2 separate regions of the Homo sapiens genome follow, and region 2 is linked to region 1. The links come from fine-mapping of genetic effects on plasma protein levels. A gene starts in region 1. The other region holds a variant in brackets. All regions are shown on one strand. Distances are from middle to middle.

Region 1 (10,498 bases):
CCTGATGCTAGACACTGGGATCGGTGGTAGACAAGACACCATCCCTGCCCTCATGGAGTTGAGTTTCCTGCCTGAGCCTCAGCCCTGGCCATGCCATTGAAACTGCTCACACAGCTCTTTGGGGCCACCATAGTCCCCAGATCCTGTGGCTCTTCTCATTCTTCCCTTCAGCAGCATCAGACACCAGTAATGATAGTTAATAACATCCTAAAACATAACAGTTCACACTTAGAAATCATCCTCTGTGTTTAAGGCCCTGTGATGAGCACAGAAATGATCAAACATAGACTCTGCCTTTGAAAATCCTGGACATAGAGTTTGGCACAGCCCAAATGGACAGGACTTCTCCTACATATGCTTCACAGAAAAAAATTCTTTCCTATAAAGAGGCAAAAAAAAAAAAAAAAAAAAAGCTTTTATTCCTAAAACTTCCTCAACATGTCTGCCATTGTTCTCAATATACAAATTCAGATTAAGCAGTCAGCAAGTGTAACACCCTTTGATATCACACTACTGCAGGTGCTAACGTCCCAACCAGTCGGCAAGAGCGTAACATCCTCTGACATCACACTACTGCAGGTGCTCACACAGTAACCAGTCAGCAACAGCATAACATCCTCTGACATCACACTACTGCAGGTGCTCACACCACAACCCGTCAGCAAGAGTGTAACATCCTCTGACATCACACTACTGCAGGTGCTCACACAGTAACCAGTCAGCAAGAGCGTAACATCCTCTGACATCACACTACTGCAGGTGCTCACAAAGTAACCAGTCAGCAAGAGTGTAACATCCTCTGACATCACACTACTGCAGGTGCTCACACAGTAACCAGTCAGCAAGAGTGTAACATCCTCTGACATCACACTACTGCAGGTGCTCACACCCCAACAAGTCAGCAAGAGGGTAACATCCTCTGACATCACACTACTGCAGATGCTGACACCCCAACCCGTCAGCAAGAGTGTAACATCCTCTGACATCACACTACAGCAGGTGCTCACACAGTAACCAGTCAGCAAGAGAGTAACATCCTCTGACATCACACTACTGCAGGTGCTCACACCCCAACCAGTCAGCAAGAGCGTAACATCCTCTGACATCACACTACTGCAGGTGCTCACATCCCATCCCGTCAGCAGGAGAGTAACATCCTCTGACATCACACCACTGCAGGTGCTCACACCCCAACCAGCCAGCAAGAGCGTAACATCCTCTGACATCACACTACTGCAGGTGCTCACACCCCAACCAGTCAGCAAGAGAGTAACATCCTCTGACATCACACTACTGCAGGTGCTCACACCCCAACCAGTCAGCAAGAGCGTAACATCCTCTGACATCACACTACTGCAGGTGCTCACATCCCATCCCGTCAGCAGGAGAGTAACATCCTCTGACATCACACCACTGCAGGTGCTCACACCCCAACCAGCCAGCAAGAGCGTAACATCCTCTGACATCACACTACTGCAGGTGCTCATGTCCCAACCAGTCAGCAAGAGTGTAACATCCTCTGACATCACACTACTGCAGGTACTCACCCCAACCAGTCAGCAAGAGTGTAACATCCTCTGACATCACACGACTGCAGGTGCTCACACCCAACCAGTCAGCAAGAGTGTAACATGCTCTGACATCACACTACTGCAGGTGCTCACACCACAACCAGTCAGCAAGAGTGTAAAATCTTCTGACATCACACGACTGCAGGTGCTCACACCCAACCAGTCAGCAAGAGTGTAACATCCTCTGACATCACACTACTGCAGGTGCTCACACAGTAACCAGTCAGCAAGAGAGTAACATCCTCTGACATCACACTACTGCAGATGCTCACACCCCAACCAGTTGGCAAGAGTGTAACATCCTCTGACATCACACTACTGCAGATGCTCACACCCCAACCAGTTGGCAAGAGTGTAACATCCTCTGACATCACACTACTGCAGGTGCTCACACCCAAACCAGTCAGCAAGAGAGTAACATCCTCTGACATCACACTACTGCAGGTGCTCACACGCCAACCCGTCAGCAAGAGTGTAACATCCTCTGACATCACACTACTGCAGGTGCTCACACCCAAACCAGTCAGCAAGAGTGTAACATCCTCTGACATCACACTACTGCAGGTGCTCACACCCCAACCAGTCAGCAAGAGTGTAACATCCTGTGACATCACACTACTGCAGGTGCTAACGTCCCAACCAGTCAGCAAGAGCGTAACATCCTGTGACATCACACTACTGCAGATGCTCACACCCCAACCCATCAGCAAGAGTGTAACATCCTCTGACATCACACTACTGCAGGTGCTCACACCCCAACAAGTCAGCAAGAGGGTAACATCCTCTGACATCACACTACTGCAGATGCTGACACCCCAACCCGTCAGCAAGAGTGTAACATCCTCTGACATCACACTACAGCAGGTGCTCACACAGTAACCAGTCAGCAAGAGTGTAACATCCTCTGACATCACACTACTGCAGGTGCTCACACCCCAACCAGTCAGCAAGAGTGTAAAATCTTCTGACATCACACGACTGCAGGTGCTCACACCCCAACCAGTCAGCAAGAGAGGTAACATCCTCTGACATCACACTACTGCAGGTGCTCACACCCCAACCAGTCAGCAAGAGTGTAAAATCTTCTGACATCACACTACTTCAGGTGCTCACACCCAACCCATCAGCAAGAGTGTAACATCCTCTGACATCACACTACTGCAGGTGCTCATGTCCCAACCAGTCAGCAAGAGTGTAACATCCTCTGACATCACACTACTGCAGGTGCTGACACCCCAACCAGTCAGCAAGAGTGTAAAATCTTCTGACATCACACGACTGCAGGTGCTCACACCCCAACCCATCAGCAAGAGTGTAACATCCTCTGACATCACACTACTTCAGGTGCTCACACCCCAACAAGTCAGCAAGAGGGTAACATCCTCTGACATCACACTACTGCAGGTGCTCACACCACAACCAGTCAGCAAGAGTGTAAAATCTTCTGACATCACACGACTGCAGGTGCTGACACCCCAACCAGTCAGCAAGAGCGTAACATCCTCTGACATCACACTACTGCAGGTGCTCACACCCAAACTTTCTCAGGGCACACCAGCCTTCCAAGGGTTCCCCAGAATAAAAACTATTTGGCTTGTTCTTAAAGACATTGCGGGCCATAGAAATAGACAGACAGAAATTATGATTTGTTGAAAAATATTTTTTCCTAAGTACAATATTTTACTTCGTTTTGGGTAAAGGATTTCACCCTTTGCTGGCTCATTAGCCACTACCTGCTGATGGACCTTCTCAGTCTCCTGTCAAAGGCCCCCACTTTCTGAGGCTGCCTGTAGTGTATTCCCTCCATGGGATGTACTGTTCCTCGATTCCCTGACAAGCAAGCTCAATGCTTCTGGGCACTCTGAATCCTTGGAGAGCCAGAGCTGTGTCTTTGGCAAGAGTGGAGAAGAGCTCTTTTTATTTCATATTATGGGGTAGGGTCAGGGAGACTCAGGCAGAGCTGCTTAGGCCCCAGAATCTGATCGAAGTGTCAGTGAAACCAGTTCCTTTAGTCTGTATGCTCTCCCTCTAATCTCAATATGAGTCTAGAATGGGGACCAAACTAACCTCAGCTTCTGCTCCTCCAGAAGGCTGTTTGTGGGTTAAACTACTGGCTTATTACTCTCTCATTACATCCCACCCATTTCTCTGGCACACCCAAGTATGTCCGGACCCCAGAAATGGCAGAATCCTGGCTCAAGCTGAGGCAGACTTCCCCATTCCACAAAGGTGATGCGCGTTCATGCCAACCCTGGGCCAACGGGCCCGATGTAGAATCCCTGAGAACCCAGAGGCAGCAAGTTCACTGATGAGTCACAGCTGAATGACACCCAAGAGATAAGGGAAGAACTTCATTGTGAAAGAGCCCAGCAAACCTCTTAGGTTATGGTTGTTCTCACTCCCTATCAGCGTCACGTGGAGTTTTGCCAAAGGAAGGACTTAGTCATCAAACAGATCCTGCCAGTCATCTGGTGGCTCCTGGAGTGTGCCAACTGAGCCTTTCTATCCTCGTGGTCAGGAGAACGAGGCTTGTTAAGGACTCTTCTATTTATTCCATCTTCTTAGGACAAGCCATCAGCCCCTCTAGCAAGGCTGCCTGCTAGTCCATTCGGCACCTTTGTGCAAACTAGGAAGAAGGGATCCATCTGGGGGGATGGAGAAACAGCTTCCACAGCACAAGTCCTCCAGAGCAGACAGGAGACGGAAAGTATGGCACGTCACGGCCATCATGACCTACCTTTTACATGTGGGGAACAAGCCCAGAGAGGGCGACGAACTCGCCCAGGGTCTGTAAGTCGCTGGTTTTTAAAAAGTAGAGCTCGAGTCTCCTGAAGCCCAGCCCATGTTCCTTCCCCTGATCCAGTGTGTGATAAGCAGTAGCTTCATGGCCCCATAGGAGGGAGGCCTTCCTTCCCCAGGGCGCAGAGCAAGCTCAAGGACAGACAAACTCAGAGGGATGTCTTCTCTCTCACTGTTGTACTTACCCATGTCAGAGAGAGACATCATTTCTGAGTCTCAGAGGGGCTGATGACATAAAGGTGAGGCCTAAATGGAGGCAGGTGACTAACAATGTCTTCAGTTCATTCCCCGCATCCCCAACCACATGGGGAGTGCCGCTTTTGCCCGCCTGCGACAGTGGTTCTCAACATTTGCTGTGCCCCGAAATAAAAACAGATTGTGGGCCCCGCCCCCAGAGCTGTCGATCCAGTGGGTCGGAGGTGGGGCCTGAGCACTTGCATTTCCAGCAAGTTCCAGGGTGATGCTCACGTTGCTGGCCTAGGGACCACACTGAGAACCACTGTCCTAGAAATACGGTCAACCCACCCTTTCCTCCCTCACCTTCTTCACTCTCTTCCTCCCCTTCTCCGCCTGTTTCTCCTTTTCCGCTTCCTCCAATTCCTCTCTGGTCCTCTTCTCACCTTCCAATCAGCTGGCTCTGCCACTGACTGGATGCCTGACTCGGGCAAGTCACCTCCCGTCTCTAGGCCCGAGGAGAGGCAGTCGGCTAGGCCGAGATGCCCCTGCCCGGCTCCCCCCTCGCCAGGGCGCTCGGCCTGGGCTCCCCCGTATCCCAGATCCTCTGTGCAGCTGTGGCCGAGATGCCCCTGCCCGGCTCCCCCCTCGCCAGGGCGCTCGGCCTGGGCTCCCCCGTATCCCAGATCCTCTGTGCAGCTGTGGCCGAGATGCCCCTGCCCGGCTCCCCCCTCGCCAGGGCGCTCGGCCTGGGCTCCCCCGTATCCCAGATCCTCTGTGCAGCTGTGGCCGAGATGCCCCTGCCCGGCTCCCCCCTCGCCAGGGCGCTCGGCCTGGGCTCCCCCGTATCCCAGATCCTCTGTGCAGCTGTGCTGGGAGGGAGCTGCTGCGTGAATGAGATCATCCTCCAGCTGCCCTCCAGCCCCGACTCTGGGATTCTGACCTCTCCTTCCTTCCACGTCTGAGCTTTTCTCTCTCCAGTTAGACACGGTATCTGGAGTCTTTCTAGGGCGCGAGGAGGGGAGGATACCCTGGAACGCGGGGTAGGAGGCTGAGGCGAGAGCCCCGAGCAGCGGCGCCCGGGCCCGAGCGGGAGGCCTCCAGCAGGGGGCGCGCCGGGGCCGCCCAGGGGCGGGGTCCGGGGTCGGCGGGAGGTGACCTGCGCCCCAGGGGCGTGGATTCCGCCCGGGAACTCGCGGCCGCACTTAAGGAGCTCGGGCCAGCGCGAGGGGGAGCAGGGAGGAAGCCCGGCTGCTGCGGACCTCCTCGGACCCGGACCCAGCCCCAGCCCGGCCCCAGCCAGCCCCGACGGCGCCATGCGGGGTCCGAGCGGGGCTCTGTGGCTGCTCCTGGCTCTGCGCACCGGTGAGGCCCCGCTGTGAGAGCCAAAGGCGGGCGGGGGTCCCGGGGCGCCGCGGCCCGGCTGAGCAGGTCCCGGGGCTGGAAATGTGCCTGAGCCTGCGGCTCCGGGGCAGTGAGACGGGGGAGGCAGGGGCTCGGGGTCGAGTGAGGACGGCGGAGGGAACTAGCACTGAAGCGCAGACGGGGAAGTCTGGAAGGCTTCTTGGAGGAGGCGGCCTCGAACACCCGAGGCTTCCGACGCTCCAAGGAGAAGCGCGGGCTGAGGCGTGGTGGGGAGGCCTCGGGGTGTGGAGAGGAGCTCCCGGAGGGCGGCCCCTCCCGACGGGCGCAGGAACTCAGGAAGACTTTGGGGGCTCGGAGCAGCTCTTTCTCCCGAGCCCCCGCGGGAGAAGATTCAGAGGGACTGACCGGCAGGCGCGGGAGTCCGCCCGGGGGTTTCTGGCACATGCAGGGATGGAGGTGGAGACGGAGGCCGGGTCCCCTCGCGTCGGCGCCCCGGGGAGTCAGGGCCCGGGATGGTGGGACGGGAGGCGGGACCTCGGGGAGCGGCTCGCGGGGATCGCGGGCGGCGACCGCCGAGGGGATGGAGTTCGTGGCACCGCTGTGGCCGCAGGCGACGCACTCATCAATGCAAACGATGAAGCCACCGCCACCCCCGCCCCGTCTGAACTTTGCAGTTTCCCGCCTGGGTGGTGGGGGGCTTGGAGCGCTGCGGAGGGGAGGGCAGTTCGACTTCCCAGGCCTCCGCCAGGAGTGGGGAGGGGAGGGCTGTGGCGGAAGCTTCAGTCTCGGCCCTTGGGCTGGTGGGGCTGCCACGGGAGGGTGACCTGGTTTCGGGCGGAGTCATGCGTTTCCCTCCCTCCTGCACAGGCCTCTGGCAGTGCTGGCTGGGGCAGGGTGAATGGCAGAGGAGCTCAGGCCTGAAAGTCATCGGCCCCAAGGGGCTCCAGCACCCCTTCCTCTGGGCCCCTAGCCTGGGAGCTCTCGGGGACTCTGACCCGGTCAGATCCTGAGGCATAAGCAGAAGTCCACTGAGGATGTGGGTGTCTCAGGCTCTCTACAAGGGGGTTTACTTTCAACACAGAAGGTGGGGTTTTTATCTGCTCTCTCAGAAGATGAAGCAGGCTCAGAGAGGCTTGAACCTACCCTGATGGGTCCTCAGCCTCCCCTCTGTGCCTGCCGTCTTCCCTTGGCAGGGCCTGGCACTGTGCCCACCGAGGGTGGCTTTGCAGCCAGCATCATCGCAGACACTCCCCGAGGGGACAGGGCTCCTGGAGGGCAGCCCACCCACAGCCCCCTCACCTCACTCTCCCGTCCCAGTTCATGAGGAAGGCCCAGGGACACTGCTGGGTGAGGGAACCTACACGAGCACCCTCTTCGGGAGGCCTGGAGAGGGGAAGAAGCTTCCACTTCCAGGGCCTGCCGAGACTCCCTAGCCAGTGCTCCCACCAGGTGGGGGTAGCTGAGAAGCGACCTGTAGACCCTCCCATTCCTCCATAAAGGGCCGGGTTCTGAGCCATTCCATTTGCCAGCAGCCGTGCTCCTGGTCAGAGAGGCCCTGAGCACAGGAATACCAGCCCTTCCCCTGTCTCTGCGCCTAGTGCCTCCCTGTGGGAGGGCAGGGCTGCCCTAGAGGACTGGCTGTCCAGGCGAATGGGCTCACACAGAACTGCTGGAGCCACCCTCCATGGTGGGCCGGGGCTGGGCAGGGCGGGGGAGCCGGGCCTCACGGTCCCCTGCCCGCAGTGCTCGGTGGCATGGAGGTGCGGTGGTGCGCCACCTCGGACCCAGAGCAGCACAAGTGCGGCAACATGAGCGAGGCCTTCCGGGAAGCGGGCATCCAGCCCTCCCTCCTCTGCGTCCGGGGCACCTCCGCCGACCACTGCGTCCAGCTCATCGCGGTGAGTCCTCTCCCTTCCACCCTGCCAGACAAGAGGGCTGTGACTCAGGAGGGAGCACACAACAGCCCCATTCACCAGGAAAGGAGCCGACCTCGCCCTGCCAGGCCCGGCCGATAGGATCTCCCGAGTCTCCCTGGCCACGAGGCCAGCTTGCCTCCCGCCGGGCCCAGGCCAGGAGGTGGGAGCCTCAGGAGGACCCGCTGCTCAGAGGGCGCCAGCAAAGAAAGGCACCTGAGAGGCTTCCCTTCCACAAGGCCCCTGCCAAGGGGGCCCAGATGGTGGCGGCCCCTCAGTGGCCGCAGGCGGTTACTTGCTCATCTTGCCATGGGGCTCTCCAGAATGGGGCTTGTGTGGTTTCTGGGGAAGGAGGAGCAGGGGCTGGACTCCCAGGTGGGTGAGCATGGGGTAGGAGAGCAGGTCTGCTGAGAACTGCTAAATGACACTGACAATCCTCCGAGGCACCACCAGAGAGTGGCGTCCCTCCTGGGTGGGTGCAAAGAAAGCTGGCTTTTCATTCCAGCTCTGCCCCCCATATGCCCCCAAGACCTAATCCAATCACAGGCCCACACTGGGGCCAAGGCTGTGGGTCAGGCTCCATGTGAGGGCAGAAACCCCAAGCACAGACCACCTTAGAGAAAAAAAGCTAGAAAACCTAGGGTAGCAGTAGAGGCGCAGGGTGGAGGGACAGAAAGCGAGGGAGACTCACTTGTCACTGCGCACCGTTTTCTGCTATCTGATTTTTTTACTATGATATCTGAGTCCTGCAAAATCAATGATTAGTATTTTTTTTTTAACATTATTAGGAAAACAAGGTGAATCCCTGGCCTGGGAAAGGGGGAGAGCCCTGGGCTCTGGTTGGGCTCCTGGGACAGATGAGAAGGACAGCACAGCCCTCTGGGGCTTGGGGTGGGGCCCCAGGCCATCTGGTAGGTGTCCCGAGTTCTTTGCTGAGCAGGCCAGCTGGGCCAGGCTTGGCTGAGCCACATTTCCTTGCAGGCCCAGGAGGCTGACGCCATCACTCTGGATGGAGGAGCCATCTATGAGGCGGGAAAGGAGCACGGCCTGAAGCCGGTGGTGGGCGAAGTGTACGATCAAGGTAAGAGGGTGCAGTGGGAGGAGAGAGGACAGCCTGCGCTGGAAGTCAGCTCTCCAGGCTGCCCTTGCTGGGCCTGGCCTGAGCTGGCCATCAGCCCTGTCCACAGAGCAGTCCTGGAGTCCCAGCCAGAAGAACGCCCTAAGGCTCTCTCAAATTCCCCAGGGACAGGAGCTCCAGGGACACAGAGAGCTGCCCCAAGTCTGCTCTTGCCCGCAGGGAGCCCAGCAGCCCCCTAGCCTGTGCCCACTCAGCTCTTACTGCGGGCTGTCCCGGGCCTGGCGTGGTGCCGGGCACGGTGCTGTGTGCGTAACTGCCTTGGGTGAGCAAGGCGTCCTTAATGCCGAGCCACCTGCACTCTCAGGGCCTCCCTTCAGAAGCCCGGCTCCGGGTAGGGAGGTGCTGTCTGGCAGCGGCACAGCTCAGCAGACCCAGCCCTTCCCCTTCCCATGACTTCTGTGACCTTGGCCAACCTCCACTTCCCAGACTGTATAATGGGGATAGTAACACCTGCGCTGTCACCCAGACTAAATGAGCCAGGCCGTGTGCCCACCTGACATGTGGTATGTGCTGGAAAGTGTGAGTTCCTTTGCCCAGTCCCCGCATCACACATGGGACCTGCCTCCAGCTCAGCCAGCTCCTGTGTCTCCCCCGCCACCTCTGCTTGGCCGGTGCCTGGCCTCCATCACAGTCCAGCGCAACTGTCACCTCCTCCAAGGTGCTCCCTGAGCCCCTCCCTCTCTGGAGCAGGGCCTCTCTTGCCCGCACCCACATGGCCTCTGCAAGCCTCTGCCTGCTCAGTCTCGTTAGTCCTCAGAGGAGGGTCCAGTCTTCCCCTGTGTCTACCCTCTGGAACTCCACACAGCATCTCGCTTGGAGAAAGCACTGGCTGGTTCCTTGTTGAATTAATGGCCATCAAATGACACACGGCACAGTCCAACCCTGCACACCCATCAGCCAGAAACAGCTCTGCCTCCGAGGCCCCACGCACCTCTTCCTCTTTAATTAACTCGACACCTCTACTGAGCACCTGCTACCCGCTGGTCATAAGCATGCAGCAGTAAACGAAGAGACCTTCCTGCCCCCACAGAGCAGAGAGTAAATAAACACACCCAAAACAATACAGTGACACATGTTGGGGTGCTGTGAGGAAAAGGGAAGGGCAGGACAGAGAAAACGAGGGTTGCGGGGAAATCCACTGAAATAGAGCAGGCAGGACGGTGCTCTGCAGAGGTGATGGGTAAGCTGAGCCCCGCAACCATCTCAGGCGGTCCAGAGGATTGGTAAGAAACAAGGCGGGTGAGTCAGAGGATGGTACCAGACGGAGCTACTCAGGTTGGCGGGGGCCAGACCCTGGTGTGCAAGAAGTAACACTGGCTTTATGTTCTAGAACTCAACTTCATTCTGATATGGCCTCCCACACCACCGGGCAGTTTGTGCACGCGTGCATGCCTGCGTGTGTGCGCCCGTGCGATGGGAGACCCTCTGGGCATCAGTTCCCACAGCTGAGTCTGTGTTTTGCCTGAGCAGCCCCTTGGAGCCACCTTGGCACAGGGGAACGCTTTGCAAGGCTGCAGAGCCCTGGCCCCACCACACAC
Region 2 (10,498 bases), 11 kb after region 1:
GGGAAGGAAGAGGGGGAAATCAATGAATACATCAATATCTCAGGATCGTCTCTACCTCAAGAGGCTAGAGGGCAGGGCCTCTTAATACATGCAGATGAAGCCCACTTGCTCTCTTGGTAACGAGAACGCTATGCACACATCCGTGTGTACAGCCGTGCTCCGTGCACACACCTCTCCCACAGCCCGCCCAGGCAGGGTGCTGGTGCAGCCTCTCTCGAGGCCTCTCCCTGCTGCCCTCACCCACTCCCCTCCCCTCCTAGAGGTCGGTACCTCCTATTACGCCGTGGCTGTGGTCAGGAGGAGCTCCCATGTGACCATTGACACCCTGAAAGGCGTGAAGTCCTGCCACACGGGCATCAATCGCACAGTGGGCTGGAACGTGCCCGTGGGCTACCTGGTGGAGAGCGGCCGCCTCTCGGTGATGGGCTGCGATGTACTCAAAGGTGAGGGCTTTGGGCTGGGCAGGAGGGTCCCCAGGCCTCCCCCTCCTTTCCTTGGCCCATGCTCGTCCCTTCACTGGGTAGCCTCCCTCCGGCCTCGCCACCATTCTTCATTCCTGGAAGGCGCAGCAGCCCCCGCCCGCCCCGTGCCTCCCCCGCCTCCACTCTGCCGCCGGCGCCGCCGCTTGACTTCCTGCTTGCTTGGACCCTGTGGGGCGCGATTCTTGCTCACGCATCGTGGTGTCCCACATGGCACAGCCAGGCACAGGCCCAGCCCATGAGTGGGAAGCAGTGAATCTCCCAGGAGTGCTTCCCACCAGTATAGACCGGGCGCAGGTCACTGTGTCTAGAAATGTGTCCTCGGCTTTACAGGACCAGAAATGCTATTTTTTCAGGACCCAAACGAGGTGCCGACTTGCACCCAGAAAGCTCCCAAGTGGCTCATCAGCCCAACCAGCCGTGTAAACCCGCGAGAGCCTGGAAGCCTCACCCTCTCAGCTGGTGGCCAGGTGTGAGTGGCTCACCAGGCACTTGGCATATTTATTAAATATCTACTCCTCTGGGAGGTCACAAAAAAAAAACCAGGAAGAGGGCTTACTCTGGAAAAGCTCAGTCTGGCTGGCGATGAGCGTGGCCCGACTGGCTCAGGTGCCAGCAGCAGGGCCTCCTCGCGCGGCACAGGATAAATACTTGTGGGTTTTGGTGCTGGCAGGGCCGGAAGAACCATGCAGGGCGGCAGACCCTGACCTCGTCCCCCGTGAGGCTGGCCGCCGGGCGTGTGCCTCCCTCCCTGTGCCGTGAGAAGGGTTGTCTACCCATCAGTGATCTTCAATAATTCTTTATTTCCCCTCTGTCATCAGTCACAGTTGGCTGAGCTGGAAATGAAACCCACAGTGAGAAGAGCATCTGGCTGATACTGAGTTATCCCACGTGGTCATTTAGGAGGAAATGTTTAGTTCCCCCGAACCATTTTTAAATGACAGTCGCTCCCAGTGCTGTCTGCTGCCTTGGTGGACCCGGTTTGGGGGTCACTGATCGGGTCCACTCCCCAGCTTTGCTCAGACTGAAGCTGGAAGGTGGAACCATTCTCAGCAGAGTCCAGATGAGAGCCCGGGCCCCCTGCTGACCCTGGGGGCTTGGCTTGGCTCTGAAGAAAGTTCTGCTGAGTGACCTCTCTACCTCCTTCCCACAGCTGTCAGCGACTATTTTGGGGGCAGCTGCGTCCCGGGGGCAGGAGAGACCAGTTACTCTGAGTCCCTCTGTCGCCTCTGCAGGGGTGACAGCTCTGGGGAAGGGGTGTGTGACAAGAGCCCCCTGGAGAGATACTACGACTACAGCGGGGCCTTCCGGTGAGCGGAGTGGGGGCAGGGAGGGGCCGAGGGCAGGGAGGAGCTGAGGCCACAAATGCTGGGGAAAAACACCTTTGCCCAGAGAGGGCCGTGGAGGGGGAAGTGGCATGTTGGCTGCGTCTCATCAAAGCACCCTTTATATAGTTCTGTGCCCTGGTTAGTTTAAAAACATCCAGCTGGAATATGCCAAACCGGATTTGCTCATGAAATCAACGTGTTTGGTATATTTAGTGAGGTGAGGGCTCCAAGAGAAGAAAATGGAAAAAACAGCCTTTTGGCCACTCCCATGTCCCCATTCTCAGACCAGCAGGGAGCGGGGTCAGGGGAGTGTGTCTGGACACCTGGGGCCGGCCCGTCTCTGCTGCTGGTTGCGGCTGGCACCTTGGGTAACCCTTCCGTGGATGCAGGAGACTCTAACAGCTCGTGGTCCAATTCCATCTGCCTGCAGAGGAGGAAATGTGCTCAGCAGGATTGGAAAGGAAGCTTCTCGGGCCCCTCTAGCTACCTCACGTTTCCACCTGGAGCAGGGAAGCCTGCTGGTGCCCCACACTCCAGATGTTATCTGACTGGATGCGGTTTTCGGCTTAGAGAGAAGAAACAGTCCTCAGCACCCCTGAGCGGGACAGCCTTGCCCCTCCACTCCCCGTGTCCTTGGCCATGCACACATTCTCTCTGGCTCTCTTGGAGCCTCAGAGCCCTCTCCTGATGTCGCCCGCCCCGATCTGCTCTAATCCCTGTGCATTTTCTGCCCGTGGGGACCCAAGCAGACCCTTTGCCCAGGAGGTCTGACCTGCCTCCAACACTGGGCAGTGACATCAGCAGATCGTGTAAAAGTCAATGGTCCCTTCCACTGAGGATTCTGCGGCATGGCATGAAAAGGCCTTCTAGTCCAATCCCCTGCCTCAGGGTAGAATGCTCTTCAAAACACCCTGAAAATTAGCCCAGCATGGTGGCACACACCTGTCACCCCAGCTACTTTGGAGGCAGAGGCAGGATGATCACTTGAGCCCAAGAGGTCAAAGCTGCCATGAGCTATGATTGCGCCACTGCACTCCAGCCTGGGCGACACAGTGAGACCCTATCTCTAAAAACAAAACAACGAAAACAAACACACAGAAAACCGACGCCCTGAGAGTCAAGGCTGCTGATATTATAATAGCAGCTGCCCTGGGAGTGCCTGCTCCCTACAGGCCTGAGCTAAGATGGAGAGGGTCCATACTGGATTATAAGGAGCCTCTCATCCTCAGAGCAGCCCTGTGGGAGCTACTTTCCCACCCCCGCTTTACAGATGATAGGGGCTAGGAAGGGGCCACAACTCGGCAAAGGCACACAGCCGACCAGCCAGGGAGCTGGAACCCAGACCACACAACTGGAAAGCCCATGCCCATCATGGCCACCCCTACAGCCCAAGCCAGGCCTCCAGAGGTGGAAGATGGGCAGGGGCAGGGGCTCAGCCCATCCAGACCCACAGCTTCTCCTCCGCAGGTGCCTGGCGGAAGGGGCAGGGGACGTGGCTTTTGTGAAGCACAGCACGGTACTGGAGAACACGGATGGTGAGTGGGGGAGGGGCACGGGCCCAGAGGAGCAGGGAGTCAGGCCAGGCCGGCTTGGGGCAGGGACCCTAGATGGCAGAGTTGGGATCAAACGCCCTAGTGCAGTGCTGCTCTGAGTCTCTGGGTGACCTTGGACAAGTCCCACAGTCTCCGAGCCTCAGCACTCCCAGCTGCAAAAGAGCAGAGGCAGGTGTCACCAGTGGAGTGCCCACTGCCCACAGGGCAGGAGAAGGGGGCCAGCGAGCAGCTCTGCTCTGCTTTGATTTGAATATGGCATTGGGTTCTGGTTCCACCTGAAGATGAGGGTCTGATTTTTTAAGCAATTTGCAAACCCCTGCACTGGATCTCACCTACCAGCCCTTCCTGGCATTTTTCTCCTCTTGCCTGGAGAATTTGTCCCTCATCCCTGGGAAGGTTTAAGATATAGTTTGGTGTTGAGGCTGGGCACGGTGGCTCATGCCTGTAATCCCAGCACTTTGGGAGGCCGAGGTGGGCGGATCACGAGGTCAGGAGAAGAGACCATCCTGGCCAACATGGTGAAATCCTATCTCTGCTAAAATACAAAAAACTAGCCGAGCGTGGTGGTGGGTGCCTCAAATCCCAGCTACTTGGGAGGCTGAGGCAGGGGAATTGCTTGAACCCAGGAGGCAGAGATTGCAGTGAGCCGAGATCACACCACTGCACTCCAGCCTGGTGACAGAGCGAGACTCTGTCTAAAAAACAACAACAAAAAAAAAACCCACAAAGACTGGTGTTATATATTGAGCCATCATGTCATTTAAGTTTTTTAATTTTGAAAGAACTGAGCTTTGGAAAACTTACAAGAATAACTCAAAGAGCTCCCTTCTATTCTTCACCCAAATTCTAACTGTTTAGCATTTTCCCACATTTTATTGTGTGTGTGTGTGTGTGTGCGTGTGTGTTCTGACCCATTTGAGAGTACATTTGCCTATGTCATACCCCTTGAATACTTTGGTATGTATCTCCTAAGACAAGGAGGTGTGTACCTAGCCACAGTAATCCAAATCAGGACACGCAACTTTGATACAATCCTGTTATCCAGTCTATAGCCGATATTGCAGATTCACTCACCGTCCCAATTCTGTCCTTCATGCCCATTTCTTGCAGACCAGGACCTAAACTCTTACCACGCATGGGGTTTAGTTGTTAGATCTCTTTACTTTCCTTTATCTTGGAACAGTTTCTCAGTCTTTGTTTTTATGACATTGGCATTTTGAAGCATCAGGCCGGTTATTTTATAGAATGTCCCTCAATTTAGATTTGCCTGAAGATTGTTTCTTTTTTTAAATTGAGATATAATTTACATGCAGCAAAATTTGTTCTTTTTGAAGGATAGTTCTATGAGTTTTGCCAAATACATGCAGTTGTATAACCACCACCACAATCGAGATCTTGATGGGGCAGACCCTTCAGCCCAGGAGTTCCTCAGGCCCCTGCTAGTTATCTCCCCGCACCTGCCAGCAAGCAGCAAACACACCGTTCTGTCTGCAGTTTTGCGTCTCCCAGGACGTCTGATGATTGGGTTTTTTTTTTAAATCATTGTCATTCTTTGCTGTTATTAACCATTGCCTTTTAAATCAGAAAGTCCATCACGAAGGCAAACATGGACCAGATCTGAGGAGGAAGAAGGCGAGTGCCCTGCACACGAGGAAGCACGTAGGACGATGCGCTCTAGTGCTGGGCAAGCCTGGAAATGGGCTCCCGTTCACAGGCCCCAGGACGAGTCTGACAAAGGAGAATTTGGAAAACGGGCAAAGAGTAGGGATATGTTGGGTTAAGAATCAGCTCTTTCAAACTTGGGGTTTTTTTTGAGATGGGGGTCTCACCATGTTGCCCAGGCTGGTCTCAAACCCCCAGCCTCAACTGATCCTCGCATCTCAGCCTCCTGAGTAGCTGGGATGACAGGCGTGCACCTGGCAGCTTTTTCAAAGTGTTGATGGTAATCTGAGGCAATCTAAGGGAGTCATTTTTTAAGTGACTTTATACAGAAAGATTGGTAAGAGCCAAGGGGTAGAAGTGGCATAAATGTCTAAAGCAGGGAAGTGACAGGACTTTCATTGTTCTTGGCTGAGGAGAAGCGGGAGTGGCTGATGGAAGCACCTAAATGATGCCTTTGTCTGTGGGAAGGCAAATGATGCCCCAGAGCTCTAACCAAAGGTTTTGCAGCCGCC[G/A]AAAAACAGGAAAGTTGGGAAGCGGGGGTAGGACTACACTGAATCATTAACAGTGCTGTAAACTACCATGTGGCCATTAACAATGACCTTTAGGGAGTTTTCCTAAACGATCACTCTGGTGCGGGTGTTTGGTTTTGTTTTAAAATAGCTTTGCAGTGAAAGCTTTCATGACCATACAAATTATCTTTTTTCTTCCTATTTCCTTGTAGAGGTTTTTTTCCTCCTTGTCTTAAGGTCATAAAAATATTGTTATGTGGGACCATCTGTGGTTTAATTATAGTCCTTAATATTCGTCTTCTCAATATCCCTGTTTGGTGTTAATAGTTACTCTTGCAAATTTTCTTTTCTATCGAGAAACAAATGAACTTATGGAAAGTTTCCAATACTGTGGAAAAATACTCTACCAAATAGGATGCAAAATTGCCTGTCAACTATGTCCTTAACCAGGTTAAAAGCGGTCAAAAGGAGGCTGGGCACGGTGCCTCACGCCTGTAATCCCAGCACTTTGGGAGGCCGAGGCTGGCAGATCATGAGGTCAGGGGTTCAAGACCGGCCTGGCCAACATGGTGAAACCCCATCTCTAGGAAAAATACAAAAATTAGCCAGGCATCTTGGTGCACACCTGTAATCTGAGCTACTCGGGAGGCTGAGGCAGAAGAATAACTTGAACCTGGGAGGCGGAGGTTGCAGTGAGCCAAGATCATGCCACTGCACTCCAGCCTGAGCGACAGAGTAAGACTCCATCTCAAAAAGAGAAAAAAGGCCAGGTGTGGAGGCTCACGCCTGTAATCCCAGCACTTTGGGAGGCCGAGGTGGGTGGATCACGAGGTCAGGAGATCAAGACCATCCTGGCTAACACAGTAAAACCCCATCTCTAATAAAAAAAAATACAAAAAATTAGCCGGGCGTGGTGGCGGGCACCTGTGGTCCCAGCTACTCGGGAGGCTGAGGCAGGAGAATGGCGTGAACCCGGAAGGTGGAGGTTGCAGTGAGCCGAGATCGTGCCACTGCACTCCAGCCTGGGCGAAAGGGCCAGACTCCGTCTCAAAAAGAAAAAGGGGGGGTGAGGTCAAAAGACAGGAAATAAAATAGAAAAAAGGACTTGAAAGAAATCCATCGCAATATGAATAGTTGGAGTTATGGGAGATCCCCCGTCCTCTCTAGTCCTGGGGTGGGTAGATTCCTTCGGGGTTTGTTTCCACCGTGGCCCCTGCTCCGGGAGCCCTGCCCCCTGCCCCCTGCTCAGAGCCAAACGCAGTGCCTCATGGCAGCCGCAAGCTCATCCTAGACTCTTGGTACATTCATCTGTCTCACCCAAAGCCTTTCTTTTTTTTTGAGACAGAGTTTCGCTCTGTCGCCCAGGCTGGAGTGCAGTGGCGTGATCTCGGCTCACTGCAAGCTCCGCCTCCCAGGTTCACACCATTCTCCTGCCTCAGCCTCCCCAGTAGCTGGGATTACAGGCGCCCGCCACCACGCCCAGCTAATTTTTTGTATTTTTAGTAGAGATGGGGTTTCACCGTGTTAGCCAGGATGGTCTTGATCTCCTGACCTCGTGATCCGCCCACCTCGGCCTCCCAAAGTGCTGGGATTACAGGCGTGAGCCACCACGCCCGGCCAGCCTTTCTTATTTTCTTACTTTTTTTATCTTGAATAGTTATTTATAAGTATTGTATTACTGTCAGATACCTCCAATTCACTTTAGCAATAGAAATTGGTGAGAGCTAGAAAATGAGAGTAACGAGATAGAGTCTGTGTAGGTACCTGGAGTTGGGTGCGGCCACCAAGCTCTGCCACCTTCTGAATGCTGGGTTCTCATGTCCATGACACCCAGCCACCCCTCAGATTCCCTCTCCTGGGCCTTCCCCGCCACCCGCCCCAACCCCTTTCGGAGCTGGCTCAGCCCAGGCTTCCTGCTTCCCAGGGAAGACGCTTCCCTCCTGGGGCCAGGCCCTGCTGTCACAGGACTTCGAGCTGCTGTGCCGGGATGGTAGCCGGGCCGATGTCACCGAGTGGAGGCAGTGCCATCTGGCCCGGGTGCCTGCTCACGCCGTGGTGGTCCGGGCCGACACAGATGGGGGCCTCATCTTCCGGCTGCTCAACGAAGGCCAGGTGGGCTCAGGGTCCCCCAACCACCTGCACAGCTTCCTAGATGGTGCCGGGCCTTGTGGTCGCTCAGCAGGGTGGGACCAGGAGGGGCAGGACCCAGAGACTGTCCTTGGGACGGACCCCAGCATCGGGCCAGGTCAGAGTGAGGAACCGACTATGCTGGCTGGCCAGAAGGAGGGCTGGCCAGGAGAGGGGGGCCCAGAGGAGGGGGACCCAGGGATTCAGGCACCCTCAGAAGAAGCTCCTGAGACTTGTGTCTCTGAGAGCTAAAACCAAAACATATGAGCAAATAAACCAAGTAACAAAACCAGCGCCTTTCAAAGCACACCATTAATTACATGTGGCGAATAAGGTTTGGCTAAAACCGCCGCTTGTGACAGCAATAGACTTCTGACTGCTGGTGCCCCAGGCTCAGTTAGTTTTGCCCTATCCAGGCTGCTACCACCAGCCCCACGGCGTGTCCTCAGGACCGTCCCATGCCTGGCCACAGCCATGTGTCCAAACAGCTGAGTGTGAGGAGGCCAAATGAACTCAGAGTAGACCCAGAACTGACAGGGCCCAGGGGAAGGAGGCCGCAGATCAGGGGAGGCGCCGCAGAAGAGGGAGGCCTCACCTGGCCCTCAGGGTGGGTGCCTGGTCTGAGGTCGGGGAAGAAGGAGGTAGGGGCCAAAGTGGGAGGGAAGGATATGGCCTGTCAGCACCCTCACCACCCTGTACCACACCCCTTGACACACAGCGTCTGTTCAGCCACGAGGGCAGCAGCTTCCAGATGTTCAGCTCTGAGGCCTATGGCCAGAAGGATCTACTCTTCAAAGACTCTACCTCGGAGCTTGTGCCCATCGCCACACAGACCTATGAGGCGTGGCTGGGCCATGAGTACCTGCACGCCATGAAGGGTCTGCTCTGTGACCCCAACCGTAAGTCCACCTGTCCCCACTGCTGCCAGCTCCAGCCCAGCTCAACCTCGGGCATGGCGAGGCTCTCTGGGAAAGTGGCCGGGGGAAGACGCTCACCAGGGAGGCCTCTGCGGGAACCTGTCATTTCCATTCCTCTGCCCCTGGGGCTTTGGGGAGGAGGCATCTCTTCCACTGTATGGCCTGTTGTACCTCGGAAGCCCCACCTGGCCGCAGCGGGGGAGGATGCAGACCATCAGAATCTGTCTTGGGAAGGGTCTCCTCGCCCCCCCATCCACGGCCATGGCATCCTGTCAGCTCTTCTACAGCCTCTCGCTCCTACTCCCCGCCTCTACCCCATGGCTACAGCCCTGGCGCAGGTGCCATCTTTCGCCTGGACTATTGCAGTAGTCTACAAGTGAGCTTCTTGCCTTTAGCCCCCTGGCCCCATGTATCTTCCACCTCCAGCCAGGGAAGTGGGTACCACACACTGAGTTACATGCACGCCAGCCATGGTCTTCCTCAGGCCTCACAGTTGCCCCTTTTCTGTGTGAGGAAGTGGGATCCGATGGTTAAATAACTTATCCCAGCCACACACCTGACAGGAGAAAGGCCCAGAATTTCCCTTGGGTCCGACTCCATGCTCTTCCATGGCAGTACTGGCCTGGCAGTGACCGCTTGCTTGCCCCACCCCAGGGCTGCCCCCCTACCTGCGCTGGTGTGTGCTCTCCACTCCCGAGATCCAGAAGTGTGGAGACATGGCCGTGGCCTTCCGCCGGCAGCGGCTCAAGCCAGAGATCCAGTGCGTGTCAGCCAAGTCCCCCCAACACTGCATGGAGCGGATCCAGGTGGGAGTCACGCAGGTGCAGCGTGGGCCAGGTGGGCGGGTGGTGGCAGTGCCTGGGCAGTTCTTACTACCCACACCCCCTGCTGCCTGGGGAAGAGGAGAGTGTCTACTGCAACAAGCCCACAGAGACGGGTGGGGAGGAGCGACCGCAGGGGCCAGCACCCACCCCAGGGGACAGAGACAGGCGGGGAGGAGCGACCGCAGGGGCCAGCACCCACCCCAGGGGACAGGCAGATAGGGGTGAGTCCCCTGGAGAGCCTGGGAGCTCCTCACTAAGTGGGGGTGCCAGGAGCAGAAGAAGCGCTGGCCCAGCTGGGCACTGACGCCCTGTAGCCTGGGGCAAGCCCCTTCCCCTTTCTGAATCTCAGCCTTCCCTTGTGCAATAGAGAGTGGGCGTGGATCATTGTTCGACTTTTTTTTTCTTTTTTCCTGATTTTTCTAAATAGACAAATAATAATTGTGCATATTCATGAGATACATACTGATGTTTTGATACATAGAATACATGGTGATCAGAGCAGGATAATAATTAACATACCATCATCTCAAACATTGCTCATTTCTCCGTGTGGAGAACATGCAATATCGTCCTACCTGTTTGAAACTATGTATTATTGTTAACTCTAGTCATCCTACAGTCTATAGAACACTGGAGCTTATTCCTCCTATCTCTCCTGGCTGGGTGCATTGGCTCACACCTATAATCCCAGCACTTTGGGAGGCCAAGGTGGGTGGATCACTTGAGGTTAGGAGTTCAAGACCAGCCTGGCCAACATGGTGAAACTCTGTTTCTACTAAAAGTACAAAAAAATTAGCCGAGCATGGTGGCACACAGTTGTAATCCCAACTACTTGGGAGGCTGAGGCAGGAGAATCGCTTGGACCCGGGAGGTGGAGGTTGCAGGGAGCCGAGATCACACCATTGCACTCCAGCCTGGGCGACAAGAGAGAGACTGTCTCAAAAAAAAAAAAAAAAAAAAAAACTCTCCCTATTCCTCCCTTCCCCTACCCTTCCCAGTCTGCAGCATCCTCTGTTCTACTTTTTACTTCTGTGAGATCAACTTTTTTTAGCTTCCACATATGAGTGGAACATATGGTGTTTAACTTGCTGTGCCTGGC

Evidence for each region. PIP is the posterior inclusion probability: the model's chance that the variant is causal. The UK Biobank Pharma Proteomics Project read protein levels with antibody pairs (Olink). The fine-mapping took linkage between variants from a reference panel, not from the people measured, so its PIPs are less certain.
Region 2: its variant is fine-mapped to the plasma level of the MELTF protein (UK Biobank, PIP above 0.99).

Annotation. Positions count from the first base shown.
Region 1 is chr3:197,025,065-197,035,562 of GRCh38, reverse strand. It overlaps MELTF (melanotransferrin), which reads left to right and starts at 5,746. Exons shown (of 16, transcript NM_005929.6): 1 at 5,746-5,909; 2 at 7,653-7,807; 3 at 8,804-8,903. The coding sequence starts at 5,861. RefSeq lists enhancers at 3,731-4,025, 3,130-4,329, 4,717-5,353, 5,354-5,990 and silencers at 5,524-6,013, 6,064-6,113, 6,304-6,483.
Region 2 is chr3:197,014,248-197,024,745 of GRCh38, reverse strand. It overlaps MELTF (melanotransferrin), which reads left to right. Exons shown (of 16, transcript NM_005929.6): 4 at 261-443; 5 at 1,633-1,789; 6 at 3,275-3,342; 7 at 7,456-7,643; 8 at 8,377-8,557; 9 at 9,230-9,381. Among named protein-coding and RNA genes, the nearest start is that of MELTF, 10 kb to the left of the region's middle. RefSeq lists an enhancer at 1,963-2,012. The variant G/A (reference allele first, on the strand shown) is at 5,535.